4 linked regions of the Homo sapiens genome follow. The main gene of each other region encodes a partner of the protein of the gene in region 4 in a complex. Each region holds a gene or a part of one and is shown on either strand. Other genes may lie near its edges.

The links.
Region 1: the proteins of GNB1 (region 4) and CRHR2 are in contact, whole or in part, in a cryo-EM structure (PDB 6PB1), measured with the Homo sapiens proteins. Residues at the interface, in NP_001269468.1 of Homo sapiens: Arg42, Gln44, Arg46, Arg52, Phe292, Val307, Ala309, Gly310, His311, Asp312; in NP_001874.2 of Homo sapiens: Arg142, Ser143, Lys372, Arg376, Asp379, His380, Ser382, Val385.
Region 2: the proteins of GNB1 (region 4) and CALCR are in contact, whole or in part, in a cryo-EM structure (PDB 8F0K), measured with the Homo sapiens proteins. Residues at the interface, in NP_001269468.1 of Homo sapiens: Thr47, Arg52, Phe292, Ala309, Gly310, His311, Asp312, Trp339; in NP_001158210.1 of Homo sapiens: Arg174, Ser175, Arg404, Gln408.
Region 3: the proteins of GNB1 (region 4) and KCTD5 are in contact, whole or in part, in a cryo-EM structure (PDB 8U7Z), measured with the Homo sapiens proteins. Residues at the interface, in NP_001269468.1 of Homo sapiens: Arg52, Gly53, Leu55, Lys57, Tyr59, Gln75, Asp76, Gly77, Lys78, Thr87, Asn88, Lys89, Val90, Ala92, Pro94, Leu95, Arg96, Ser97, Ser98, Trp99, Met101, Leu117, Gly131, Asn132, Val133, Arg134, Val135, Thr143, Tyr145, Gly162; in NP_061865.1 of Homo sapiens: Val157, Arg159, Val160, Leu161, Gln162, Cys163, Gln164, Glu166, Glu167, Gln170, Met171, Thr174, Met175, Ser176, Asp177, Trp179, Ser190, Tyr191, Val205, Lys207, Leu209, Glu219, Ser221, Lys223, Ala224, Leu227, Gln228, Arg230, Gly231, Ser232.

The regions. Positions count from the first base shown.
Region 1 is NC_000007.14:30,672,448-30,679,467, reverse strand, and holds part of CRHR2 (corticotropin-releasing factor receptor 2), read left to right. Parts: intron 1-7,020. UniProt on the Homo sapiens protein: G-protein coupled receptor for CRH (corticotropin-releasing factor), UCN (urocortin), UCN2 and UCN3. Has high affinity for UCN.
Region 2 is NC_000007.14:93,571,713-93,579,411, reverse strand, and holds the start of CALCR (calcitonin receptor isoform 2 precursor), read left to right. Parts: upstream 1-4,687; 5' UTR 4,688-4,720; intron 4,721-4,905; 5' UTR 4,906-5,123; intron 5,124-7,699. UniProt on the Homo sapiens protein: G protein-coupled receptor activated by ligand peptides amylin (IAPP), calcitonin (CT/CALCA) and calcitonin gene-related peptide type 1 (CGRP1/CALCA).
Region 3 is NC_000016.10:2,692,512-2,699,531, forward strand, and holds part of KCTD5 (BTB/POZ domain-containing protein KCTD5), read left to right. Parts: intron 1-3,423; coding exon 3,424-3,532; intron 3,533-5,394; coding exon 5,395-5,486; intron 5,487-7,020. UniProt on the Homo sapiens protein: Its interaction with CUL3 suggests that it may act as a substrate adapter in some E3 ligase complex. Does not affect the function of Kv channel Kv2.1/KCNB1, Kv1.2/KCNA2, Kv4.2/KCND2 and Kv3.4/KCNC4.
Region 4 is NC_000001.11:1,804,084-1,811,103, reverse strand, and holds part of GNB1 (guanine nucleotide-binding protein G(I)/G(S)/G(T) subunit beta-1), read left to right. Parts: intron 1-4,565; coding exon 4,566-4,629; intron 4,630-6,522; coding exon 6,523-6,685; intron 6,686-7,020. UniProt on the Homo sapiens protein: Guanine nucleotide-binding proteins (G proteins) are involved as a modulator or transducer in various transmembrane signaling systems.

The sequences.
Region 1 (7,020 bases), on a different chromosome or scaffold from region 4:
ATAATCCCACTCGCCCACACTCCCTCTGAGATACATACTGCTTTTATGCCCATATTGCAGGCAAGAACACTGAGTCTCAGACACATGAAGTAACTTATTGAAAGTCCTAATCAGCTCCTATGCACCAGTGCAGGCAGGTGAATCCACAGCCCTCGCTATTAACCATGGGGCAGTACTCCCTCCACAAGAGGCATTCGGTTTGCGAGGAGAGCTTAGAGGTTTGGAAAGAAGACTCATACCTCCGGCCTGGAGGATCAGGGAGGACTTAGCCCTCTGAGCTGGACTTCTGGGGACAGGTTGGATTTTAGCAGGTGAGTGTAATAGGCACAGGAGAGGCCCTCTAGGCTGAGGGGACTGAGCAAAGGCAAGGAGACAGGCTGGGCTTTGTGCCTTGGGAGGAGTGTGTTGTATGGAGAACAGGGAGTAGGAGAAAGAAACAATGAGGCTGGGGAGGGGCATGGAGGTCAGGTGATGCAGGGCATTCTACAGGGCTTCACCATCTGGAGAGGGAGCCTGGGTGAGCTTGTGAGCAGAGAAGCTCAATTTTGGGAGCACACTGTCCTCTGGAGGGAAAGGAGAAGTAAGGGGATTTCTGCACAGACCCAGGTAGACCGCAGGCTGTAAGAGCAAATGAGGTTGAAGACGCCAGCAACCTTGGGCATTTGAAATTGACAAGATATGGTGAGAGATGGCAAGGTAAAGGTTGGGCACACAGGAAACAGCTGAGCACAGTTGGGGATGTGTTGACTTTGAGGAGCTGGAGGGACAGCTGAGTGGAGATGTTCAGGAAGCAGCTGGTTGGGTGGGGGAAAAGCTCAAGAGAGCACCAAGAGTGGAGATAAGGCGTTTAGAAGTCCTCAGGATGTGGGGTTAGCAAATAGCTACAGTGTGTGAGTTTGGGAGGCTGGGTCAGAGCCTTGAGCCATCTTACCCAGAGTTATTTCCAGATGCAGCAGGGCCAAGGGAAGGGAAGGGACTAGCGCATGGCCACACATGTTAGTCAGTGGCAGAGCCAAGTTAAGCACACGAGTCTCCTTGGGTGTTCTCTACACAACCTGTGCTGGCGCTTCAGTGGCTGAGCTTCCACATGTTTGTACTGTGGTTTAACTCATTTAATCCTTGCACCATCGAGTGACAGAGACATGGCATTATCCTCATTTTACACATGGGGAAACTGAGGTGTGGAGCAATGAAGTCACTTGTAACAGAACAAGGATTCAAACCCAGGTTCTGCTGCCTTTCAAAAAGCAACTCTGCTAGGTTAAGCAGAGAAGAAATTTTTTAAAAAGATATTGGGGAGCTTATGGAATCACTGAGTGGGCTAGAGAACCAGATTTGGGGCCCCAAGCCAAGAACACAGGGCAGAGCTGGCCCTGTGAGGGGACCTCCCTCTCCCTGAAAGGCCCTGCCAACACCACCAGCCCTGGCCACCACTAGTGGCATGATCAAAGATCACTGCAATCTCAAACTCCTGTGCCCAAGCAATCCTCCTGCCTCAGCCTCCCGAGTAGCTGAGACTGCAGGCACATGCCACCACACCTGGCTAATTTTTAAATTTTTTGTAGAGTTGGGATCTTGCCATTTTGCCAGAGCTGGTCTTGAACTCCCAGACTCAAGCGATCCTCCTGTCTCTGGCTCCCAAAGTGCTGGGAGTATAGGCGTGAGCCACTGCACCTGGCCAACCTGGAGTCTTAAGCTTCCTGCAGTTATCTCTGGAGAGGCTTTCTCCCTGTCTCCATCTGGGGGCCTCCAGTTCACTAATTCCCTCGGGTAGGTGCATCTGATGGGTGGGGGAATATGTGGAGCCCCAAATCCCATGCCAAAGCTCTGGCTACAAGGGATCCTGGGAAGTAAGGATCTGGCATTTTAGCTCTAGGCGGGGAGGTAGCCTCGGTCTTACCCCAGGATTCTCCGAACCCAGGTTCAAATCCTGGGTGGCTAGAAACAATCCTAAATGTCCATATACAATTTAATTGGGGCAAGTCTCATCCCTTTTGTGGGCCTGTCTCCCTGTCTGTAGGCCGAAAGGAAGTGGATTAGCATGGAAGTGGTTTGGCCAGAAGTGGGGCACTTATATTCCATTTTCCTCCCACCTCTCCCCATTCCACACGGACTCCTCTGAGCCCATCTCTGTGTGTACATCTCTGTCTCTGTGTCTCTCTCATTGTCTCCCTGTCTGTTTCTGATTTTCTCTATGTGTGGTTCTGTTTCTGGGTGTATGTTTCTGTCTTTCTCAGATTCTCTCATTTTCTACCTCTCTCTCTCTTTCTCCATCTCTCCCTACTGCCTTCTTCATCCCCCGACTCCATCTCCAAACCCACTGTCTCCCCACTCCCATCCCTCCTTCTATCTGCCCTCCTCCTGCACCTCATCTTGCCTGTCCCTACGGTCCTTTTGGCTGCAAAGGAGGGTCTTGCCACCTCCCTCCTGGCCATGGTCCATTTTCCTTCTGTGGAACCACTAAGTGCAGCTTGGCTGAGCCTCAGCCTCCTTGACCTCAAGCTCCGCAATGTCCTACTGGGAATGGCTGGGGTCATCTGTACTGAGGCATCTGCCAGGACAGGGGAAGAAGGGGCATCCCATCTAACCTAGCCACATGGGGAGGTTAGGGGTCCCCACTTCCCAGAACCCCATTCTAGAGACATGCTTAAGCACTGATTGTGTTACAATGGAAACACATAAGCTGAGTGGTCTCCAGCCAGAGGGGTCTCTCCCATTGGGTCTGCCTGCTTATGCAGGAATCCCTTCTTCAGCCCTAAGAGTCAGAGGTGATAAGAAAGGCTGAGACCTGCCCTCAGGAAGCCCCAGGCTGCTTATCAAGGAGGCTTGTGCAAATCAACAGTCAGAGATCGGGAAGAGGGGCTTGGTGGACACTGGGACATTCCTGGGAGGCTTTCTGGAGGGAGTGGGGGTAAACTTTAAAGGTCTTGGAGCAGTTGGGATGCCACATTTGTTAAGGACAGGCGCAGTGCAGGGGTGCAAGCCTCAGGAGGACCCCAGATAGACCCTGCCCTCTGGGTTGAAGAAGTAGAAGCTGTAAATCCGGAAACTCAGGTCTGCATTCTCAGACTCCAGCGAGACCTGATCCCCCCTGACTCTATTCCATTCTCCAAGGGCCACAAGTTACTCCATGTGTGAGAACAACTTCCCTGCTGGGAGAGAGGGAAGGTGGGACAGGCATGGCCATCACAGAGGTTTAGCTAAGAAAAGAAGGAAGGAAGAGAAATAGAGCAGAAGTGGATGCCCTTGTGGCCATCCAGACACCCCAGAGCTGCCCGGCTGCAGAGCGCTCTATGTTCCGAGTCCAGCCTTCCCCTCCCCACTTAAGGGTAGGAAATGACTGGCCAGGAGAGGGAAACACAGCTGCTCAGAGTTCTACAGCAAGTCTGGGCCCTGATAGGCCTCTGCTGGCTCTGGGAACTCCTGGCTTCTGCTCTAGCTTCTACCCACCTCTGCATGCATCTTGATCTTTCCTGTCTCCTGCTCTCCCCAGGAATCCTCCAGCCACCTGATCGTCTTGCTCAGGCTCACCCCTTATTGGGGTTCTGAGTATTTTACCCTTTCCCCCAGAAAGAATTGAGGAGCCTAGAGACAAGCTTTTCAAAGATGCATAAGACCTGAGCCTGCCTTCCAGGGGCTCCTGTTCTAGGAAGAGTGACAGACAGGCAGACTCTCAAAGAGAACTTTTTGATATAGGCTCCCAAGTAAAATAGCACAGTGAAGACAGTCAGAGCACATGGAAGGGAGTTATTCCAAGAGTAAGGGAAAGTAAATTTGGAAGACTTCATGGAGGAAGTGTTGTTGAACAGTGCCTTGAAAAATTGAGCTAATGATGTGTCAGATGGAAGGGAGGGTGGGAGCGGAAGTGGAAGAGGAGGGAGGGAAGAATAAGCCAGATCATGGAGGCCTCAAATGTTGGACCAGGGCATGGGCCTCGATTCTGCTGGCTTTAGAGACAGCGGCTGCTTGTCCGTAGCCCTATGGCACAGGACCAGAATACTCTGGAAGGATACTGCTTTTCAAAATGTGCCATCTAAATCTCAATCAAGGGCTGGCTGGGGACCTGGGCCTTGGCCCTTTCCTCTCCTCCCACCTGCTCCTTAAGTCAGAGGTCCCAGCATCCTTCCCTGTGCACTCCTTACCACCAGTGCCACAGCAGAGCCTGGAGCCCTGAAGACGGGCTGAAGGAGGAGCCCCATCTCAGTGATCCTCAGGGAGCTCCCCACAGGGCTTCTTGGCTGGGCCCCAGGTACAGGCATTTGGGCCCCTCTGACTGCCCACCCTCACCAGGTGCTTCAGAGTCAGGCAGGCGGTCCCTTTCACACACAGCACCTGCCAGGAGAGCAGCTGGGGCAAGGGAGAGTGGGAGGAACCTGGGCTCAGATTTAGCAGGGCTGGATCTAAGTCCTGGGTTTGCCATGACTCACTGAGGGACTGGCAGGCCCTCCTTGTCCAAGTCCCAGTTTTCTTATCTGTGTGAAGGGGACAGAGAACATGCTGACCTCGTGGGGCCATGGCACACAGGGGAGATGATGCTGCTTGGGGCTCCCTGTAGACAGCTAAGGCATTGTCAGCAAGGGGAGGGGAGTTGAAGGTGGCCTGGGGCCTGGAAGGAGGGGCCATCATGTCCTTGGGTAGGGGAAATCCTGCTCACACCAAGAATGGCTATCCTCATTCTGGGGTGGTGGTCTCCTGCTATCTCTGAGAGCCCCCAGAACTCTGTGGCTTCTGGGGATGTCCTGGGAGGGAGGATTCTGTCTATCTAGATTGAGAAGGTCTGGTACCTAAAAGCCTGTAGAGAAAGGCAGCCCCTTGCCCCCCTGGAGGGATGCTGCTGGCATCCTGCCAGCCAGCTGTCTTCTCCCTGCATTACTTCATAGGAACTAGGAACTGAGAGCCAGATCTAATCCCGGCCATCCTACTGACTGCTTTTCTCCCTTTGGGCAGGTGGTCTCCCCTCTTCAGACCTCAGTTCATCTGCACCAGGTGGGTGGAGGGCTTGATGAGTTCTAGTGATGTTTCTCAGTTCCAAGGCAGCTTCTGCCACAGGGGTCCTGTGTTGGTCCCCTCCCCACTTTCCTCCACAGGCTGGCGTCATGGCGACGAGCCCACTGAGTGTTGCTAGGATGGCTGGAAGGAGGGAGCCCTGTACAGTAGAGGCGGGAGCATGAGGTAGGGGCCTCCTCCCACTGCCCCTCTCTGGGGAGGGCAGAGCTTACACAGTGAGCTGGGTTCCACTCCCCCTTCCCTTTTTCATAGACCCAGTATGGTCTCCATTAAACTGCTCAGTGCCTCTATGACTCAGTTTCCCCACTGTCTCCTGTAAGTGTGCTTACAGGTCCTGCTTAAGGATGGCAGGGCACCATGAGTGAAAAGTCCTGTGGAAATAGGGAGTTGAGGGTCTCTGAAGGTCCAGAACAGGCAGTCGAGGCTCAGAGAGCTGTGTCCATATAACACTAAGAAATGGAATCCAAGTTCCCTGGCCTGAATCCCAGACAGCACCAGCAAAGGGCCCTGGGGATGCCTTTCCCACCCAGTGGCTGGGGTTGGCAATATTAGACTCCCAAACTCAATCTAGCACTTCTACGTCAGTCTGGGTCTGAGCTTGGGTGAACATCACCAGCTGCCTGTTCCCCTCTGACCACCAATTTGCTGTGATCGGATCAAGACAGAAATATGCCAGGTGGGCCTCAAAGTTGGTCAGTCCTCCTTAACCTGCAGTGGCCTCCAAGCAATGCAGGATGCTGACTCAAGGAGATGCACCTCGTTTGGGAAGCTCAGGAAAACCATGCTGTTAGTACTAGGACTGTACGTCTGACCACCCCAGCTCTGTCCACCTTCCCCAAAAGTCTCTTAACTGGGGATGAAAAGCAATCCACTCCAGGAAGTGGAGGCCAAGCTGGGAGGAGACATTGATTGAGAGGTTTTTCCCACAGAAAGCAAGAAAGATGGCCAGGCATGGTGGCTCATGCCTGCAATCCCAACATTTTGGGAGGCTGAGGCAGGAGGATCACTTGAGGCCAGGAGTTTGAGACCAGCCAAAACCACATAGTGAGACCCCGTTTCTACAAAACAAACAAAAAAATAACAAATGATCATGGCATGGTGGCACATGCCTGTAGTCCCATTACTCAGGAGGCTGAGGCAGGAGGATCACTTGAGTATAGGAGTTCAAGGCTGCAGTGAGCTAAGATCACACCACTGCCCCCCAACCTGGGTGACAGAGTGAGACCCCATCTCAAAAAAAAAAAAAGTAGGTAAGAAAGGTGACTCAAAGTCATGGTCAAAGATTTCTCAACTAGGCCCCAGGCCAGACAAGAAGATGGCTGGATCTGGAGTGGCCCAACTACAGGCAGTAAAGGGAACTGAGGGTGGGATATCTGGCCCCTAAGGTATTCTCTTCTGAGGATCTGGACACCAAGTGGTAATGACACTGAAGAGGTGGCATAACTGGCTGCATCTGCTGAAACACAGGGTCACAGGGAGAGTCTGTCTCTCCTAGGTACACCAACTCCAGGGTCTCCCGTGAGGAAGCGTGTCCCAAGGGAGAGAGATCTTCTGCCTCTTCATGGTTGAGTGACCCCAGATGTGTCAGTTTCTCTCTTCTGGTCCCACCAGACCAAATGCAGAAGTTGTCTTCCTTCCTAATTCCCAAGGAGATGCCTGATAACTCAGTTTCCAACTTGCTTCCCTTGGAACAGTCAAAGCTTTCATGCCAGGAACCTGGAGAATGCTGCCCACAGGTTTGCTGTTTGAGACTGACACCCCTCCCCCATGTGGGGTTGGACTGCAATGTCTGCAGTTTTGGCAGCTGGGTCAGCCTACCCATGGTGTCTTTGTGTGAGACCTTGCTTCCTCCTGCATGTATGTGTGACTGTTTTGTATTTGCCATGCATCTTGGTGAAGCATGGGCATACAAGGTGGCAGACTGTCCTCCTGGCCCACTCTGAGCCTCCTACCTTCAATGAGTTCCCAAGTAACCTAGGAAACAGCATCAGCTTTGGTCCATCCTGAGATCCT
Region 2 (7,699 bases), on a different chromosome or scaffold from region 4:
TCCTGGCTATCCTAGAATAGCATTACCCCATGCCTGCCTCTCAGTTCCCTGTTAATGATATTTTAACATTGTCAGTATCTGAAATTAACAATTTACTTCTTATTTTGTTTGTTACCTATCTCCCTCTTCCCACTAGAATATAAGCTTTGAGGCCGCAATTTTTCATTATTTGTTGAATGAATTAATGAATGAATGTCTGCGTACATTTGCTTCTGCAGTATTTTTTCTGGCTCCTGGGTTTCCCTTTAGAATTTTATTTAAAATATAAGAAATGGATATTTCTGAACTTCATCAGAGATGGAGCAATTAGTTTCCACTGCTGCTTTATGGTGTAAGTCCCTGCCATCTCCTCCTACTCTGAGTTATTTACACATTAAGTTAACAGTTAACCAAAGTGAAGTTTATGTAAGTACAATCTGGAAAGACACTTCCTAGTTCAAGTGGAATTTGTTTTTTCCATGCCAAAAGACACGTTCTCTAGAGAAACACAGCCGTGTCACACCCTTGGAAAGATGAGGAGAGAAGAGAGACTTACAAGTACCCCAGCTCCTGTTTCTGAAAGACAGGTGGAAAATCGAAGCAGGACACTTCCTTCAAGAGAGCATGATTTATCAGGTCAAAGTTCGAATTGTTTTCAAAGGAAAACATTTATTTTTCACTAAGGCAAATTATTATTTGCCCTGTCATGGTGAGGCCTGTAAATCTAGGAAGAGTAATTATATAAAGAATAATTACCAGCTGTTGTCTATTTGGAAGGAGACTACAAGAGGAAGAAACAAATGTTCTTGAATAGACTGTGGGCTTCTTGAGGGTAGGAGCTGCATATTGTGCTTTTTGGGTCCCCCATAAGCGGCTAGCCAAGGGTGTTGTGAAATTATGTGGTGTTAAATATGTACTAAATTACCAACACATAAGCATAACGGATTGAGCTGGATTTCAATGTAAGGAAAACTTTGCTGATAGGGAGCTATTCAAGTTAACCATTGGATTCCTGAGAGAGTCCAGAAATTTTTTCTCTAAATTCCTGTTAAAAAAAGAATAAACTCTATTTAACCTTACAACAATTTTTTTCCAAGAAGAACTAAATGACTTTTTTCAGTCTCTACAAAGTGTGACCTCCCTCACATTAACCATATTTAACAGGAATAGGTATTAATAGAGCTAGTCTTTAATAATGGGCAATCTTCCCTCCATTCACTGAAATTCAAAACTTTAGTGATTTTTAAGGAAAAGTCACTGAATTCTCGAACCATAAGTGTCCAGAAAGTGGTATGTATGGTTCAAACTCTGGCAAACCTTGCTTGGAAAGACAGAGTTGAGAGGTCAGATAATCCTTTGCTAGTGGCAGAACTTCACACCCTCAGCAATGTAGATGGAGGGTTTCATAATTGAAGTGGAGTTTGCATTGAAAAGTCTGTAGACAAGATCCACAGAATACTTCTCCCTAAATTAGTAACTGTCCAAAGGGGAAATTTTCTAAAGAGGAAGAGGGACAGAGAGAAAGGGGCAAAGTATCATAAAGACAGGGGATTTTAAAATAAATAATCAATAAAAGTACCAGGAATGTGTGACTACCACATTTTAAGATGCTTATTTTATGAATGCCCCTTTGATGAACTAATTTCATTTGAAAGCTTATTTGCAAATATAAGGTATTCCACTTGAAGAATAGCTTATTCTAACCCAGTGTCTTTAGGTATTTTTGTGATCTACAGAAAGAAATACATTTTACTTTGCAATTTCATACACAGAGATAGAGAGAGAGAGAGAAATAAGACAAGTTTCAAGAAACCACTCTTGTGCTTTCAAATGGCGATGAACTCTGATATTTTCTATCCTATTCCACTTCATTTTTTAAATGTTACTTATGCCCACTAACTTGATTTCAAGATCCAGTAATGGGTCTCATAACATTTTCAAAACAATGCCAATTCCCCTTATCAGACCATCCCCATGTTAACATCCACCCTCCAAAAACTTACCACACTGTGTCCATGTAGGAAATACTGTGATAATATTAAGAAAGCAGTAGACTTAAATTTCTGTAAAATCCAAGTGTTTCCAACAGGTACATAACCCCTTTGGTGTTCAATAAATATCTGTTACTGACAAAGTCAATTTAATCTTCTTAGGGGACAAGAGAGCTTCATCCCTGATCTTGCTTCTGCTGTGTCACCTTCCCTGAAATATTCTGCCTACAGAGAACTCTCATTGTTTCCCCCAATATTGTATCTAACACAGTTCACACTTTAATCAGCTGAGGTTGCTTATGCTTAGACCACAAACAGTTTAAAGTTTTATGATACACCCATGCCATTTTTCTCAATAACTTTTAGACTTTGTTTACATTATGGTTAAGGGCTGCATCCCACATATATTCATTAGATTTATAGAATCAAGCCCATCCTGCTCTCAGAATACTGGTTATCAATATCAGGTAGGCTGCCCTAGGATTTAACCTCCAGCGGAAAAATCTCCTTGTACTTGTTCTATCACACAATGCCGAGGGCGGCAACACTTTCTACTCAGCAATAGTCTCCCTGAATCATTGTTATTTCAGTGACTTGGGCTACAACCTGAGAAATTCTCAATGTTTGGCCCCAGCAGTTGACCATAGGAGACTCTCAAACAACTTTAATATTTCTCTGCTGTTTGCACCAAAAGAAGGTAATTAATATTCCAAAAGAGAATTCTTAAAGGAGGTCATGGTCAAGTGTTGGCTGGTCAGGAGCAGTTGGAAAGCAGGGAGCTATTGAACTCAAGACAGATTGAGCCCAACCCAGCACGGAGTGAAGATTCCTATCTAAGTTCTGAATTCGGAAGGGTTTCTTATACAGGCTTTGTTTAAGTTACTGTGTCTGTGTGTGTGTGTGTGTGTGTGTGTGTGTGTGTGTGTGTGTGTGTGTGTGTGTGTGTGTGTATGTTCCTTTCAAAGCCTCCTTGTCTCCCAGTTGCCCAGCCTCCTTTCCTAGTCACATTTCTTACTGCTAACAACATCATTCTCACTTATCCTGGGAATGAAGGGACTGTACAATCTTCCTCTGCAGTGAGGCAGTGCCTTAGGGTTTGAATGCACAGTGAGTCACACACAGCCCTCTGGGTCACCAGACTGGAGGTGACAGGGAAGGGGGGAGTATATAGAGGAGGGAGCCTGGAAAAACAAAATCCCTGGAATGTTGGGTGGGAGAGCTGATCTGATCCTTGAGTCTGTCCTCCACTGGATCTCCTGAAAGCCTCAACCACACAAATTAGGGGTCCCTGTTGTCTCTCTGGGGTGGGGTATGAGGATTCAAAATAAAACAGGAGCATGCAAAATAAAACGGGGACATTTTTTGCCTACAGTCACTGATGTTTCCATGGAAGAGCTCCAAGGATGGTTGGGTGAGGGCTGCAGTTCCATTCACAGGACACCTCCTTCTCTGTCACCCGGTGTTGTCCCGTGTGCTTATGAGAACCTAAGATCACCAGGGAAAGTGTGCTGTCGCCGTCTGGCTTTCTTCCCCTCCCATTAAATGATTGCTATTATTTCTTTTGCCAAGGAGACAGTGTTTAGTAACCTCGACGGTGCACGGCCACCTTGTGGTCCCGGGACGCACCGGATGCTGTTTTCTTAGTCCAACACCGCCTAAACAGAGTTAGGGAAAAAAGTGTTGGCTCCTGCCTTGATCCACCCAGTTGTGGGCTAAAAGAGGTTGAGGGTGACTCGTCCTTGGAATCAACTTGCCTGCCTCCCAGGGCGTGCCTGCCAGCCTCCGCTGCGCCCCGCCTGGTATTGGATTGTCCCGGACTCCTGCTGACATCGAGGGCTTTAGGGGGAAAGAAGAGGAGTCGCAGTGTCCGGCACCAAGTCAGGCACCCCATATCCCCGTCTTCCCTCGCCATCCTCTCTGTTTTCATTCACCCTAAAACACTGTGCCCACCAGCAGTCCCCTACACGGAGGGCACTCTTTCTCCAAATCCAAGTTATGCCTCCAGCCTACAGCCGCCCAACTCCGGACGCTTTCCCAGGGCTTGCCTGACCCCCAAGGTGTCTCTTCTCATCTCCTTCCTCTCAGCACTTTTTTCCTTTTAGCACCCCAGCTCTTAGCCAGCCGTCTTCCCACGTCCTCACCCCACTTTCACTACCTAGCCCACTACCGACCCTCCCTCCACAGGCTCCCTAGTGCTGTCCCCGGAGTGGCGGCTGAAGAAGCCAGGGTCACAATGTCTCTGGGATAAGGTTCTTGTGGAAACTCACCTCCCTCCGGAATTTGCATTCTCCGGGGAGGGGACAGGGCTCCCAGAAAGCTGTCTCCCAGTCCAGACTGTCGCCCCCCTCTCCCTCCCTACTCAAGGTCTAACTCGGGTCCCTCGCCTGCTTCCTGTGTTTACGCGGCGCTTTAGTCTCCCGGACTCGCAGGGTGAGCCCCAGCCCTGACTGGAGCGAGACAGCAGCCGCGAGCGCAGCCCCACTCGCGGGCCGGGGCGACTGGGGCTGGCGCGAGGCGCACGGAGCTCACCAGCTCGCCCCTCCCTCTCCTGGGACAGGAGGGGGCTGACTGGGGTGGCGGGGTCCGGGAAGGGGGGCTGGCTCTCATCAATTCTGCTGCCACCTCCTCTGCCGCCTGTCGGGAGGCGGGCGGGGGTGGGGCGGGAGCGCAGGCTAGGATTGAGACTCTTAAGTCAGGAGAAGTTTGCGCACAGCTTCACAGCTGGGAGAGCGCAGGAAGGCGCCGGGAAGGTGAGCCTCCTGGACTCTGGGGAGGTAGAAAGCAAGCCAGGGGAAAGAACAGTTGTCTTTTAGCTGATAATACAACCTAGACTTGGGTCTGAACCACCTAAGACAGATTTAAAGTGTCAGAAAACCAGGAGAGGGGCGGAGAGGGAGGACTGAGACTAACGCAGTTTGCTCTCGCATCAAACTAGGAAAGCCAGCCCACCAGCGTCTGGGTGGGCTGCGCCGCGCGGCTGGCGGACCTTCCCGGGTTGGAGAAGTGCGCACGTCCGCACCTCACCCTGCGGCTGACATCTCCTGCCCAGGAGATGGGCGCTGAAGCTTGAGCGCCTGAGTCCCTGGAGCCACACCTGCGAACACCCTTTGCTTCTATTGAGCTGTGCCCAGCCGCCCAGTGACAGAATTCCAGGTAAGGAGCGTTTGGAAATGAGCGGGACTTAACGATTTGGGGTGTCCAAGGGATGTTTAACAGTGCAGGTGCTATAGGCACCTTGCTTTTTGATTATAGAAATGTGGTTTGATTGCGGTGCTTGTGGTTCTCATGTAGGGTCAGCTAGGTCTTAGATGCTTTACTTTACCCTTGTCAAAGAAAAAAGAAAAATAGGTGTCCTGGGAAGAGCCAACAACTTATGGTTTCGTATTGAAGAATCGTTTGATTTCTTGTGACTTTTACTATGTTGTTCATATCAATTTTCCCTCAAAAGTTTTATTCTCCAACTTATTGGGTAGGAAAATTACGGAGGTTAAAGTTGTGAATTTTCCCAAAGGGTGTTTATTAACTGACAAACATATAATATCAGCATCTATAAGATGTGTCATGGTTGTTCTGGATATTGGAAATGAGCACAGTAGTGAATGGAGTTGCTTGTTAAGTCATGTTTTACAGAGAATAGTTTTCCAACAATCATTTATGCATAGCAGCCATTCTTCACACCTATTAGGAAAAATATGTTGTGTGCATAGTTTCCAAAAGAGTACTCTTTTTCATGATGCTCTTCCCAAGCCTGGGTGAAAGACATCAAGAAAAGCTGTAACAAATTAATTCCTTTTCTCAAAACATTCATTTTCCTTGAGGTCCAAGTCAAAAATCAACAATACAATTGAGATTAGTAAACTATCATACAGACTTTATTTGGCAAATCTACCTAAGAAAAGTTTCATATGAAAGCTTTAACCTAATACTATGTGACATATGCAAGAAGAGAACGCAGGGTTTCACTTGCCGATCTTAAGGAGACCCTGACTATTTCCAGGCTGTGGTTAACCGGAATCAAGTTATCTATGTAAGGCTATTTGTTGAAATTATTCGGTGATTGAAGGTGAAATGTTCAAAATAAGTCAAAGTTTTACAATGTAGTTCTTAAAGCTAATCTTTAAATTACAGAGCGTCCGAGTTTAAGTCTGTCTTAAATGATCATAGAAAGCAAATATTTTATGTATTTGGGCCAGTTGACTTACCATTAAGGACAAAGTAGGAATGCTTTTAGTATTATGGAATTTATAAAGTGTAATTTCTAATAGGATATTGCTAGCCTATGAGTTCAGTAGTAAAATAACTCAGCTTTAAAAAGTTGAGATTGCTGGTTATACACCAGTATTATGAGAGAAACTAAGATGATTAGATTTGTAAAACCTTTACAGTTTAAGTTGGTATTCTCAGTGGATACTCATTTCTACTCAATATTTTAACATAACTCAAAACATCCATCAGCCAGGATTTGTTCTGGTTCAATGCCTCTAACCTGTAGTTTATTTTATGAACTATAGCCCAAGAATAATATCTGGTCATATTATAAAATGTTCTAAGTTTATTCATTGGCTACATCAACACAATAAGTAAACAAGAAATCTTCATTATAACCAGTTTATAAGAACACATAGATAATCTTGGAGTTGTTTTGTTTCATGATTCTCAAAGTTAAAAAGAAATAGCTGATATAAATACGTCTTCTGTTTCTCATTTTGAAACTGGAGGTAATGATTGATGGTGGATGGAGAGCATTTGCTCTAATCAGTTGAAGAAAGGGAGCTAACTATTAGTTTAGTTGTGCCATGGCAATTCTGTTCTTGATGAACCTCTCAGACTCTGTCAATGTTAACATGAATGGAAATATTATCTACTGTTGGTTTTTATTAGAGTCCTAGTGAAATGGAAATAGGAGACCGGTAATGGTTTCAATGATAATCTAAATCAGTATTCTCAACTCGGGCTGCAAATTAGGGTTAATAGGAGAACTTTCAAAAAATACGGATGCTCAGCCTTACCCCAATTCAATCAAATCAGAATATCTGTGGAAAGGGTCTGCAATTTGATGTATTTCTTTAGGTGATTGTAATATGCAACCAGGATTGAGAGCCACTGACCAAGAGGGTTTCCACCAGACTTGGTAGAACTCATTGATGTGGGAGGCTTTTGATAAAAATAAATGTTGTTTGTTATATCGCTGGTCAAATAGTTTTTTCTTTAAAAAAAAGAAACATATATGTATAAACATACATATATATGTATAACTTGATCTTACAATTAGAAGAAAAATATTTTAATATTTGATGTTAGATATTTAGACCGTAACAGCTTCTCGGAAAAACATTTTTTATCCAGAAAACAAGCTATTGAGTTTGAAATTGATCTGCCCATCCAGAAAATGTTTTAGTAAATGAACTCCAGCTTTAAGAGATGTTGAAAATAATACTTGATGAAACATACAATTTCATCTCCTTTTGCTTAAGACCTGTATACTGTGTAAAGTACAAATACGTACCCTTTTGAAAGAGGAGAAAGAGGAAAATAGCATCATTCCCCTTGGCACACTAACTACCATATACCCGGTGCCAATGATAATCTAGTACTTTTACAAAAAATATGTTTTAAGCTAAGAGTAGCCTTGTGAGTTACAAGCTATTATCATTATTTTATGTATGAGGAAATTGAGGACCCATTAGATTAATGAACTCGCTCAAAGCCACGAACCAAGTAAATTAAAA
Region 3 (7,020 bases), on a different chromosome or scaffold from region 4:
TTGCCAATTGTCTCTGTCCTCTTTGTCCTCTGCCCTGCTCTGGCTGAGCCCAGGGCTCTTATGGACCCAGAGGGAAGGAAGTGCATACTAATTGGTTCATGGGCAGGCCCGGAAAACGCACCACAAGTCCCCACTTTGGTCCCCGGGACTGGCAGCCCGGCCCCAGCCTTCATGCCCTCCCTGGCCTGAAGGTGGGGCCTTACCGGGGACCTACCCCCTTCTTCCCAGGAATCTATCTGCCTCCTGCTGCCATACATGGCGCCTGGGCTCGGCCCCAACTTTGCTCCAAGATCGGAGCAGGCACCAACAATAGGAGTAAGCCAGGCAGTGAGAGCAGGCACTTCTGAGCCTGCAAGGGCCCGGCAGAGGGGCCTTTCTGGGCCCCCAAGAGTGCAGGGATGCCTGAGGCTGTGGTTTGGGCAGCTGCAGTTGTGGGCCTGCCTGCTCCGTGGAGCGGGAAGCCCGGGTCTGCAGCCATAGTTTGGGTGGGGCGAACCCCAGGGCTGCAGCCCCAGGCAGCCCCACGCAGATCCTCCTCCCGAGGCCCGGGAACCTGACATCTTCAGTGGGGTGGGTGTGATGGCTGTGCCACTGGCTGGGTCCTCACCGCTGGTGCCACTCTCACTACCCACCCCAGGCCCCCGAAGCACAGCCCCAGCTCTGCATCGGGGCCCCTCTCCACCCAACCATGCTGCTCTCCTGCCATGCTGAGGGCAGTGGGCTATGGTGTGGGGAGTGGGGTCTGTTCGCCTCCTCCCTGTTCCCTCCCTGCAGCGGCAGGTATCACGTGATGGCAGCAGCTGCACCAGTTGGCCTGCTGCTGGCATCACCGCACTGGGCCAGCTGTGGCCAGACTGAGGTCAGGAGTTCCTTCAAAGCATCAGCCACAAAAGCTGCCTCCTAAAGGGGGTGTTTAATGGAAAAGCCAGCCCCGCCCAGTGGTAGGAGTGGCCAAGACACGGCAGCGGCCTACCCCTGCCTGCCCGTCTTGAGGCCGAGCCCAGTGCCAGCACGCTCAGTGCCCTGCCGGCTCCTTGGACCTGTCTGTGTTCCTCTGTCCTGCTGTGCAGTTTCCGCCGATGGCCGTCCCCACCCTGCCCTCCTTCCCTCCTGCCTTCATCCTTCCAGTTGCAGGGCTGGGGTTGCCTCGTGTGTCTGGGGGCGCCCAGCACGCTTCCTTCTCCTCTTGCACCGGCCCAGGGCCTGAGAAGCACATGGTGGGTTGTCTTGGCCTAGAGGTCACGGCTCAGTGCCCAGGTCCTGCCACAGGTTGGGTGCCCTGGCACTCATGGCGGCCCCGAGCTACACGAGCTGGTCTCCCCCACCTTTTGCTCGTAAAGAAACTGAGGCTTGGGGTGGCCTGGCTGTGAGCCTGCAGTCTGACCACTGAGGCCAGGCCTGGAGGCCTCCATGGCTGACAAAGGGGTTCTCTGGGGTTGTCCTGGGCAGAGGCGAGCCTCCGCCCTATCTGATCTTTCCTGACCTCCTGCCAGCGGTCTGTCGAGGTAGCAGTGAGCCGTGAATAATTCCTGAGCTGAGCGGTGTGCGGACGTCACGCGGCCAGCATTCTCTCTGTATGGGGGTGGGGCAGGGAGGAACCCTGGACTCGGGTGGCAGCACTGGCCGCCTTGCCAGACTTGGGCCCCTTTGTGGGAAATGGTGTCCATTTTTTAGCAGTTGCGCAGGACCGCCCAGCGTCCTCTTCCCGGGAGCTGGCCCTGTGGCCCCGGCCCTTGCTTGAGAGCTGTGGAGTCTGGAGGGCTGGGGAAAGGCAGGGCCAAGCCCAGGAGGCAGGGCCTGTGGGGTGGGCAGCTCTGGCTGGAGTGTTCCGGGGGAGGGTGGGGAAGGAGGATAGGGTCAGGTCTGTGTGGAGCTGGGGTCACCCTAAGGAGTAGGGGGGCCGCCGAGGCTCCGGGTCCAGCGCCCCCATGCCCGGAGCCCTAATTGATTTTATCTCAGCCACAAAACTCAGTCCCTGTGATCTAAAAAGAGCAGGTTGTTGCAGGTTTGCGGTGGTGGACTTTGGGAAAATCTCTTGAGACCACTAGGTCTTAGCACCCAAATGGCAGAATTTGTCCATGGATGAAAATAGGGTCCTAGCGTGGCCCCGTGCTTTGTGGTGGAGACACCTTCGGCCTCCCCATATCTGCGAGCCTGGCATTCCCGTGGCCAGCGCCTGCCCATGGCCCCACAGGAGCCACCATCTGGTGAGGGGGCTGCTCCTGCTCCGAATGGGGTGTGGGGTTGCTTCTCCAGCGCTTGGCCCTGGGCCTCGCCGGGGAGGCTGCCGGTGTTTCTGAACGGAGGCCTCAGCTCCCCGGCCTCCAGGGCACCCGCAGGCACCAGCCCCTGTGGGAGTGGCTCGCAGGTGGGAGCAGGACCCTTGCAGGCATGTGGGGGGAGGCAGGAGCTGCCCCAGCAGAGCCACACGGAAGGTCTGAGTCTGTGTAGAAGACAGGCTGTGCCAGCTTCGCAGTCCCCCCATCAGATGTGTAGCCGACAAGACAGAAACTGCCTCTTCCGTCTCCCCCATGGGGGCTGCCTGGGGCGTCTGAGCCCCCGTCCTGTGTTCACGGCCGGGCCACTGGGGCTCTTGTGCTTTGTGGAAGGGGCTGCAAGGTGTGATGTGTGGGGCACCCCGGGCCTCAGAGGGCATCTGCCCACATTGAAGTGGCCGTGGTAGCAGCAGGGGCAGTGCCTCTCAGGGGTCCCTCCACCCAGGTGCGTGAGGACACCTTCCGAGGGGTCTGTTTTGTAAACATCTCGGCCTCCGTGAGCGCTGAGCCGGGGCGAGGGCTCTGTGAGGTGAGTGATGATCTTGGGGAAAGCCCCGGATGCTGTTGAGTGCCGGTCACTGTGGCCTCCCTCGCTGCTGGCTCCCGGCCTGTTGGGCAGCCGCCCCTGCTGAAAGGTGCCCTCTCCACCCCTGGCAGGAAGCCCCTGTCACCCTGACCCCCGGTTCCTGCATGTAGGCTGCGGAGGACCCGGGCACGAGGAGCGCAGGCCCAGGCTGGTGGCCATCAGAGGTGTCCTTCTGAGGCTGAGCCCTAGGCCCCTGCCCTGCCCGCGAGGGCATCTCTGGGTGAGGTTTTCGTGTGTGTTTTCCTAGAGGTCTTGCAGTTGTGAGGACAGAGGTCCAGGGCACAGTGGGCTCACCTTGGAGTACGCAGAGCCAGGCTGCCTCCGTACGGAGAGACTTAAACTCACTTAGACCTGGGGTGGTGGCTGGTCAGGGTTAGGCTGTAGGCGGCAGGACGTGGCCACACCGTCAGGGGTTTCCTGAGATGCCGCAGGCTCAGGTGTGCTGGGGAGAGGCCTGGGTAACCTGGTGCCTCTGAAGCCTCCTGAGGTGGCCGGGCCTTGGTGGACCTGCAGGAACCTTCGGCTTCTCACGGAGGACTCACCGTGCTCTGCTCTCTTTAGGATGAAACAGGCGCCTATTTAATCGACAGAGACCCCACCTACTTTGGGCCTGTGCTGAACTACCTGAGACACGGCAAGCTGGTGATTAACAAAGACCTCGCGGAGGAAGGTAAGCCGAGTTTTGGGCACAGGTGCCTTAGCTTTGGGGGCAAGGGCCCGACAAAGGTGCCAAGGGCTCCACTTAAGACACAGATGCCTGCAGCCTGGGGCCCCAGGGAGGAGCAGGCCCTGTACTCTGAAGCTGGGGCCGACGTTCTGGTGCTGAGGCCACGGGCAGCGGCGCAGCTGCCGGACAGGGAGGCCTGGGGACCCTGTGGGTGTGGGGTCCTCCCTGGCTGCAGCTCCTTGGAGGGCTCCCTCTGTCCAGGCTCCGGCTGGCGACACAAGGGGTGTGAGGGGTTCCTCCCTGCTGTGACTGAGGTGGTCTGAGCGGGTGTGTGAGGCACATGCCCGGTGATGCCCACGGCGTGCTTCAGGGCCTGGTTCCCTGGCCTGCTCTCCCTCAAGGACAGCCCAAGGGTGGTGAATGTCTCTGTGCCATCACCTGGACTGTGCCTGCTGCTGCCAGCTGCCGTGTTCCATTCTGAGTGATCGTGGTGCAGGGACGGCGCCCACACGCGTTGGGCCCAGGCTGGCCTGCCTGTGTGCTGCGGTGCTGGCTTGGCTCAGAACAGCTCGAGGCCTCGCCGTGAAGGCTGAGGGTTTCTGGGCACCTGCGTGCGGGCGTGGCCCTGCTCCCCCGGGTCCGTGTCTGCGCATCGGTCTGCACTGGGCAGCGTCTGACTCCGTTTCTGTTCTGGGCCTCTGGGCCTCGGCATCTGCCTGCCTCCTCCGAGTTCACGCGGGGCGTGGAGTGACGGGGGCTGTGGCCCAGCCCTGCCCCTGCTCTGAGGCTGTGAGCCATGATCCCCACTCCTGTCTCTTTGGCAGGGAATGTCTTTCACATGTACTCTCTCTGGTCGCTTGGGCAGCCGCTTGTGTTGTCGTGGAGCCGCTCGAGTCGAGGCTTCGCTTTATCTCATTCTGCCCCTAGTGGGATTGGCTCAGAAACGGGCGCTAGACACAGACCAAGGCCCTGCCGCCCAGGCTCACCGGTCTGCCTCTATCCCGCCCCGATGCAGCCACTCACGCCCTGGGTGCTAGAGAAGGGGGCTGTGCGGGACCCATGCGGGGCCGGGAAGCCTGTGTCTCTGAGGCCCTCGTCTCCTTGTCTCTATCCTGCGTGGCCCTGTCCCATGTAGGTGGCTGGGTGTTGTCCTGAGCTGCCATGTGCCATATGTGGGTTCCTCTGGGGTCCTGGAGGAATGAAGACCACCCATGAGGAAGCCCTGAGGCAGGACCTGTGGAATCTGCTCTTAAGGCTCTTAAGGGAGGTTTGCAGTCCCTAAGTGCGGCACATTACGGATGGCAGTCTTTGGGAAGAGCTGGAAGTGACCCTCTCAGCCAGCCACAGTCTTCCCTTTGAATGGGGTCAACTGAGGTGCCAGGTGACTGAGACATATGCACAAGGCCGCAGGCCTGAGCCCCACACAGCACCCCACCCAGTGGCGTGGCCATGAGCAGGTTCCCAGCAGGAAGCGTCGGCCTCCAGGCTTGGAGGGAAAATGCCAGATCCAACCCCCAGCATACCATGGCCTCGGCGTAGACATACGCTGAGCTGCATGTAAGCAGCGGCTCCATACCTGGCGGGTCACTGGAGGTCACTCAAGGTTACCTGGGGTGACCTGAGCTGGAGGTGTTCAGTCCACACATCGGCCCTCTCACCACGGCCCCTCCGCCCATTATCCCAGGAGCCCTGCTGGGCTGACACGTCTGCAGGAAGCCTGTTAGGTCGGGGCCTGAGCAGCTCCCGCTGGGCCGAGCCATGGGCCCTCATTGCAGGGGCAGGGGCAAGGGCAGGGGTGGGTGTAAAGCGTGGATTCTTTGGTTTAGTTTGGTCTGGTAAAGACAATTTATTTTTCCTTATTCCAGGAGTGTTGGAGGAAGCAGAATTTTACAATATCACCTCATTAATAAAACTTGTAAAGGACAAAATTAGAGAACGAGACAGCAAAACATCGCAGGTGAGACAAATGACTGAGGCTGGAAGCTTGTATGGCTGGTGTGAAGGAAGGGCTCCCCTTTACTCCCCCGACCGGCTGCCTCCCAAATAAGTCCTGCGGTCTGGGGCTCTCCTACCCTGAGACCCTTGTCCTCTGTCACTGCCCCAGTGCCTGCCAGCTCCGTCTACCCGGCTCTCCCCAGGGTCCCTTGAAGGATCCATTCATCCTGCCCGGCCCAGACTCTGGGAGCCCCCAAAGGATGGCTCTGAGGAAGTTGGGCACGGGAGACGTGTGTAGGGAAGGAGGGCCCCATGAGGGCCGGTCGGGGAGACCCTGAGGTGGATGGCATCTGGTAGGGAGCAGAGGGTGCCAAGGGCCTGCAGCCAGCATGGCTGGAGGGAGACAGCAGATGGGTCGTGTGGGTCTGCGCAGGCGCCAGAAGGACCTTGGTTTTATTGGGAAGAGGGGCGGCTCGCCACAGACACACCTCTCACAGCTGGCACGGCCCTTCTGCAGCCAGGGGAGCCCAGGTTGTTGGTGGGCTCTGCCCAGTACCTCCTGTGGAGGGGCCACTGCTGGGCCTTGGGCATCAGTCCCGTCCCTGAGAGCTGAGCCCGCCCCCCCCACCCAAGCTCAGCTCCCTTGAGAAGGCACCAGGAGTGGGGTGTGTGCCGCACTGTGGCCGCGGCTGCCATCAGAAGTCTCGGTCCACGTAGAGCCCTGGGCCCTGTGCAGACGCTCCTAGCCTGGCCGCTCAGGGCCGCTGGCCACCTAGCGACTTGCCCAGTTCCCCCTCCTGCTGGAGCTCCCTTGGTGCCACTGAGGGATCTGGAGGGGCTCCTTGTCTGTGGGGCAGGAGCTGCGTCCCGCGCCCCGGGTCACCTTGTCCAGTCTGCTTTTTTCCCTGTTGTGTGACCGGGCTGTGTGGGCACTCCCTGCCTCAGTCTACCTACCTGTATGACGCAGGTGGGCAGGAAATGGTGCAGGTGGGAGAGTCTGCGGTCCAGCCTTGCTGTGACACAGTAGCATCTCACTGTCTTGCAGAATAAAGCAACTCGGGCATGTGACCTCGAGGCCACTGTGTGCCTTTGTCACTCAGGCATCCCTGGCATGAGTCACCACCTTAAGGTCAGGGACCCAGGACCTCTGAACCCCTTCTCACTGCTGCGTTTCCGTCCAGCCCCGTCTGCAGCCTGAGTCCTCCGTAGTGACTGTCCAGGATGTGGGGCCACCCCGCCCACTGGGGAGCAGCTCCATGCAGGCGGGCGGCCCTGGTGGCTCACCATCACTCCCAGGACCACAGCTGCCTGGAGGGGCACAGCAAGCGTGCCAGGCAGGTGGGGGATTAGGAGGTGGATGGAGTTTTAGGAAGCAGCTCAGCCTTCGGGAGGCCCAAGTCCAGGCTGCCGCGCAAGTTCAAGAGCCTTTTTCTGGTAGCTGGGAGCGAGCTTCGTCTGGCACTGGCTCTCAGGGCCCTGCTTGCCAGAGCCTTTCCCGACCGATGAATTCAGGGCTGCACGGTTGCTGCGTGCGGAGCAGACGTGGACGCTCTCGT
Region 4 (7,020 bases):
AAAAAAAGAAAAAAAAAAAAAATATATATATATGTATATATATACCCACAAACATGCGCATTGCACTCCCGCCTGGGTGACGGATGGAGACTCTGCCTCAAAAAACAAAACAAAACACAAATAAAGCTACATGAGAGGCCAGGCACCGTGGTTCACGCCTATAATCCCAGCACTTTGGGAGGCTAAGGCGGGTGGATCACCTGAGGTCAGGAGTTTGAGACCAGCCTGCCCAATATGGTGAAACCCTGTCTCTGCCAAAAATACAAAAGTTAACTAGGCTTCATGGTGGGTGCCTGTAATCCCAGCTACTCAGGAGGCTGAGGCAGGATAATCGCTTGAACCCAGGAGGCAGAGGTTGCAGTGAGCCAAGATTGCACCACTGCACTCCAACCTGGGTGACAGAGTGAGACTCTGTCTCAAAAAAACAAACAAAAAAGAAAACTACATGCAAGGCCCACAATGATTACTTGTTATGTATGTATGTATTAATGTATCAGATGTACATTTGTAATATGTTTATCAATATATTTGTACTAAAAGGCAACTTTTTTTTTTTTTTTTTTTTTTTGAGACTGGGTCTCACTCTGTCGTCCAGGCTAGAATGCAGTGGTGCGATCCTAGCTTACTGAAGCCTTGAACTGCTGTGCTCAAGCAATCCTCCTGCCTCAGCCTCCTGAGTAGCTGGTACCACAGGTGCACATCACTGTGCCCAGCTAATTTTTAAAAAATATTTTTTGTGGGCCGGGCGCGGTGGCTCAGGCCTGTAATCCCAGCACTTTGGGAGGCTGAGGTGGGCGGATCACGAGGTCAGGAGATCGAGACCATCCTGGCTAACTCAATGAAACCCTGTCTCAACTAAAAATACAAAAAATAAGCCAGGCGCGGTGGCAGGTGCCTGTAGTCCCAGCTATTTGGGAGGCTGAGGCAGGAGAATGGCATGAACCCAGGAGGCAGAGCTTGCAGTTAGCCGAGATCCTCCAGCCTGGGTGACAGAGCGAGACTCCATCTCAAAAAATATATATATATATTTTTTTGTGGAGACAGGGTCTCCCTTTGTTGCCCATGTTGGTTTCAAACTCCTGGACTTAACCAATCCTCTTATCTCAGCCTCCCAAAGTGCTGGGGTTACAGGCATGAGCCACCACCCTCCCTCCTTTGAGTAAAATGAAGGGCATTAGGTGTTTTGATTTTTGACAGCTACTTTCAGGGTCCTGGAGCCTGTTAGCTTGCTTCCTGGCCCTTGCCTCTATGTTCTAGGTGAGTGGCACCTCAGATAATTGATTTTTGAGTAGGTAAAGGCACTACTAGGCAACGTGAACCCAGCTTTCCAACAGCTCCCTGACCCGGGACTAGGAGGCATGTCTTCTCTCACCTTCTGGAGGATCAGTGGACAGCTTACGTGTCCCTAATCCCTCTGGAAGTCAGCAGTTATTAAGCTCTCTGACCGGGAGACCTCTGTAAAGGTGATCCTCCTAATCTAGGAGGATGAGCTGCTTTAGATCAGCTCTGATACTCGACAGAAAGTCTCAGAAGGGCTGGGCAGAAATAAAGCTAGAGTGGGAACATGATACCATTACGTAGAAATAATTTTAAATGTTTAATATGTTGATGACAACCTGGATTGAGAAGTTTGCTTTAAGAATTGCAACTGAAGGCTGGGTGCGGTGGCTTACGCCTGTAATCCCAGCCGAGGCAGGCAGATTGAGCTCAGGAGTTCGAGACCAGCATGGCAAAACCCTGTCTCTACTAAAAATACAAAAAAGTAGCCAGGCATGGTGGTGCACACCTGTAATTCCAGCTAATGGGAAGGCTGACGCACGAGAATTGCTTGCATCTGGGAGGCAGAGGTTGCAGCGAGCTCCAGCCTGGGTGACAGAGTGAGACTCTCTCTCAAAAAAAAAAAAAAAAAAAAAATTGCATCTGAAAAATAATAGGATGGGAGCCTGCACTTAGTTTTTAGTTCTGTGATAAATTTTGTAATAAAGTGCAGGTGAAAAGGTTTTTATTTGTTCTTAAACTCATTGACACCTGTATCAAAACATCTAGTTTGATATTAAAAGTGTCAGAGTTATCAACAAAACTTGAGAGAGCGTTACTCCAGCTTTAGGTCAGCTTTAAGAAGCCACATATGTTCACAGCTGAAATAGTTAAAACCTGTGTTTTGAGGCGCTGTGGCTTATGTCTGTAATCCCAACACTTTGGGAGGCCAAGGTGGGCGGATCACTTGAGGCCAGGAGTTGGAGACCAGCCTGGGTAACATGGGGAAACCCCATCTCTACTAAAAATACAAAAATTAGCCAGGTGTGGTGGCACGTACCTGTAATCCCAGCTACTTGGGAGGCTGAGGCATGAGAATCACTTGAACCCAGGAGATAGAGGTTGCAGTGAGCTGAGATCACACCACTGCACTCCAGCCTGGGTGACAGAGCGAGACTCTGTCTCAAACAAACAAACAAACAAAAACAAACAAACAAAAAACCTTGCGTTTGATAGAAACTTTAAAATTAAAAATCCTTATACTATCATTTACCGTACTGACAGATATCCCTGCATCAAACAGTGGAACCTTCTTGCTCTTCCTTGAAAACAGCATTCTGTGCTACAGGGTTCCTTAGGACCTCTCATAAGCAACTGTGGTTCCCAGGAGTTACCTTTCACCCACCTTACTTGCCTGCTAAGGTGAAATTCTTTTGCTCCTTATTCATATTCTCCTTTGTAGTATGGAGCTCCTTTTCAACATGTGGATTCCGAACTGAGCACAGTTGCCAGAGCAAGGAAATAGTTATGAAAAAATTCATGGTCGGGCGCAGTGGCTCAACGCTTGTAATACCAAAACGTTGGGAGGCCGAGGTGGGCGGATCACCTGAGGGTCGGGAGTTCGAGACCAGCCTGATTAACGTGGAGAAACCCCGTCTCTACTAAAAATACAAAATTAGCTGGCTGTGGTGGCGCGTGTCTGTAATCCCAGCTACTTTGGAGGCTGAGGCAGGAAAATTGCTCAAATCTGGGAAGTGGAGGTTGCGGTGAGCCGACGCACCATTGCACTCCAGCCTGGGCAACAAAAGCAAAACTCCATCTCAAAAACAAAAAAAAGAGGCCGGGCGTGGTGGCTCCCGCCTGTAATCCCAGCACTTTGGGAGGCTGAGGTGGGCAGATCACGAGGTCAGGAGATCGAGACCATCCTGGCTAACATGGTGAGACCCTGTCTCTGCTAAAAATACAAAAAGAATTAGCTGGGCGTGATGGTGGGCGCCTGTAGTCCCAGCTACTCGGGAGACTGGGGCAGGAGAATGGCATGAACCCCGGAGGCGGAGCTTGCAGTGAGCCGAGATGGCGCCACTGCACTGCAGCCTGGGCCACGGAGCGAGACTCCGTCTCAAAAAAAAAAAAGAAAAAAAGAAAAAATTCGTGATAGTTACTGGTCTCTGCTCCCGGACCATGCGCAGTGGTGCTGTTGTTTACCAAGCAGGTGAGGAGGGAACGCCTCCTTTGGTTTCTAGGAGACCTTGATTCCAATTTTAGCTCAGTCTGGGAAATTTCATGGGGTATTTTGGGTGAGAAATGTTTCATGAATTTGGAATGTCTAAAAGTGGTTTGTTCTTTCTGTTTGTTTTTTTTTTTTTTTTTTTTTTTTTTTTTTCAGTCAGGATCTCGCTCTGTTGCCCAGGCTAGAGTGCAGTGGCGCAATCTTGGCTCACTGCAACCCCCGCCTCCTGGGTTCAAGCAGTTTTCCCACCTCAGCCTCCTGAGTAGCTAGGATTACAGGCATGCACTACCATACCCAGCTATTTTTTTGTGTTTTTGTAGTGGAGACGGGATTTTACCATGCTAGCATGAGGCCATGCTGGTCTCAAACTCCTGTGATCCACCTACCTTGGCCTCCCAAAGTGTTGGGATTAAAGACATGAGCCTCTAATTTGATTTGTAATGAAACCAAACAGAAACACTTATGAAATGATGTCAGCCTGTCTCAGCTGACAAAGGGAATGGGTGCCAGGGGTGATGTGGCCTGCATTCGGTTGGGGCCAGGCATCTCCACTCTCAACTGTGGTCTGTGACAGTGTTTTTGTTCATGCTTTGAAGTTGGTCTGACATTTAGAGCCTTCCTTTCCTTTCTTTCTTTCTTTCTTGAAACAGAGTCTCACTCTGTTGCCCAGGCTGGTGTCCAGTGGCATGATTGTGGCTCACTGTAACCTCCGCTTCCTAGGTTCAAGCGATTCTTCTGCCTCAGCCTCCCGAGTAGCTGGGATTACAGAGACGCACTACCATGCCCGGCTAATTTTTGTATTTTTAATAGAGACAGGGTTTCGCCATGCTGGCCAGGCTGGTCTTGAACTCCTGACCTCATGTGATCTGCCCACCTCAGCCTCCCAAAGTGCTGGGATTACAAACGTGAGCAACTGTGCCCGACCAGAGATTTTTTTTCTTATAAATAAGTGGCTTTGTCTGAAGCACATGTAACATGGGAGCACATAAGCCACCAGAGTCTGGGTTTTAGTCTGTTGCTCTTGTACACTTTCTGTGTTGTGCGGTACTGATAGGTTTGCTTTTGTCTGTCCCTCCAGGCTTCTCGTCAGTGCCTCGCAGGATGGTAAACTTATCATCTGGGACAGCTACACCACCAACAAGGTAGGGACTGGAGGATTCCCTTCCTTGAAAAACCAACCCAGGAAACAGGGTTTTAAGCTCTGGATTCATTTTGTTAAATCACGTAATACAGGATAGGGAAGGCAGCAGCGGCAAGCTCTGTTTGTTAGTAGTGAAGTTGCGCAGGTGAGATAGAAGCTGAGTCACGTGCCACCTGTCACGGTCTCTTCCTCTGGACCAGGCACAGTTGTGCTGTTGTCCGTCATCTCCTTACCAAGCTGGTGGGAGCTAAGGACCTTCTGTGTTTCTAGGAGACCTCAATTCCAGTTTTAGCAGAGTCTGGGAAGTTTCATGTTTTATTTATAGAGTGCAGAAGTATCACTTTTCATTCAGTTACAAGTTTTTAGAAGAGATCATCTGAAAGACATCATACTTTAAAGTGTAATTTATGTTATTTTCAAGACTTAATCCAAAGTGTATTGTTTTGAATAAAAAGTATTGTCATTGGTCCAAACATGTATGTAAAAGATGTAATTCAGTTTATTTTACTAAAGAATACTAAATGTGTATAAATGATTGCATTAATTACAGCAGATCTAAAACAGTGGGAGAGATGTGGCAGGGTAGATTGTAGGAATGTCCATTTTGGTTATTCCATAAAAATCTTTTGTTTTCGGCTGGGCGCCGTGGCTCACACCTGTAATTCCAGCATTTTGGGAGGCTGAAGCAGGTGGATCACCTGAGGTCAGGAGTTTGAGACCAGCCTAGCCAACATGGTGAAACCTCGTCTCTACTAAAAATACAAAAAATTAGCCAGGAGTGGTGGCAGGCGCCTGTAATCCCAGCTACTCAGGAGGCTGAAGCAGGAGAATTGCTTGAGCCCAGGAGGCAGAGGTTGCAGTGAGCCTAGATCACGCCACTGCACTCAAACCTGGGCAACAAGAGCGAAACTCCATCTCGAAAAAAAAATTTTTTGTTTTCAGATGAGTTCATAGCCATTTGACAGGATAATGCAGTGTTTTCCTTCCAATACGTGTGGGTTTTTTTGTGTTTTTGAGACGGAGCATTGCTCTTACCGCCCTGGCTGGAGTGCAGTGGCGTGATCTCTGCTCACTGCAGCCTCCACCCCCCTGGTTCAAGCGACTCTCCTGCTTCAGCCTCCTTGAGTAGCTGGGATTACAGGCGCCCACCACCACACCCAGCTAATTTTTGTATTTTAGCACAGACAGGGTTTCACCAATTTGAGGCCAGGCTGGTCTCGAATTCCTGACCTCAGGTGATCCACCCGCCTTAGCCTCCCAAAGTGCTAGGATTACAGGCATGAGCCACCGCACCCGGCCTGTTTGTTTTCTTTTGAGACGGAGTCTCGCTCTGTTGCCCAGGCTGGAGTGCAGTGGCGTGATCTCAGCTCACTGCAACCTCCGCCTCCCGGGTTCAAGTGATTCTCCTGCCCCAGTCACTCAAGTAGCTGAAACTACAGGCATGCGCCATCACGCCCAGCTAATTTTGGTATATTTAGTAGAGACATGGGGTTTCACCATGTTGGCTAAGCTGGTCTTGAACTCCTGACCTCAGGTGATCTGCCCGACTTAGCCTCCCAAAGTGCTGGGATTACAGGCGTGAGTGACCGCACCCGGCCTAATGTGGTTTTGATGAGTGGGCAGCACTACTGTTAAGACTCCACCTAATCATAAGTTGTGACTTCAGTAAAACTGGACTGTGTGGATTGAATTTGAATCCCATGTGCAGCACTGGACTTCTCATTAAGTATGCTTCACCTGAGTGGCCACATATGGGAATCGCTCTCTAGATAATTTTGGCTCTTATTTTGTTCTGTTACCTCCTTTGCAGTGAAAGTTGGAGATGAGAAAATCCTGGTGTCAGTGTTGTTTTTGAACATAAAGTTGTTTGCATCATCTGTCTTTCTGTCATTAGGTCCACGCCATCCCTCTGCGCTCCTCCTGGGTCATGACCTGTGCATATGCCCCTTCTGGGAACTATGTGGCCTGCGGTGGCCTGGATAACATTTGCTCCATTTACAATCTGAAAACTCGTGAGGGGAACGTGCGCGTGAGTCGTGAGCTGGCAGGACACACAGGTACCTGTCCTTGTTCATAAGCTTCAAGTGACACAAGCTGTTTACCTGGGGTACATTATATGCTTTGGATACTCACTTTTTATCAATCATTTTTTAATTAATTAATTAATTATTTTTTTTGAGGCGGAGTCTCGCTCTGTCACCCAGGCTGGAGTGCGGTGGCGTGATCTCGGCTCACTGCACGCTCCGCCTCCTGGGTGTTCACGCCATTCCCCTGCCTCAGCCTCCTGAGTAGCTGGGACTACAGGCGCCCACCACCACGCCCAGCTAATTTCTTTTTTGTATTTTTAGTAGAGACAGGGTTTCACCGTGTTAGCCAGGATGGTCTCGATCTC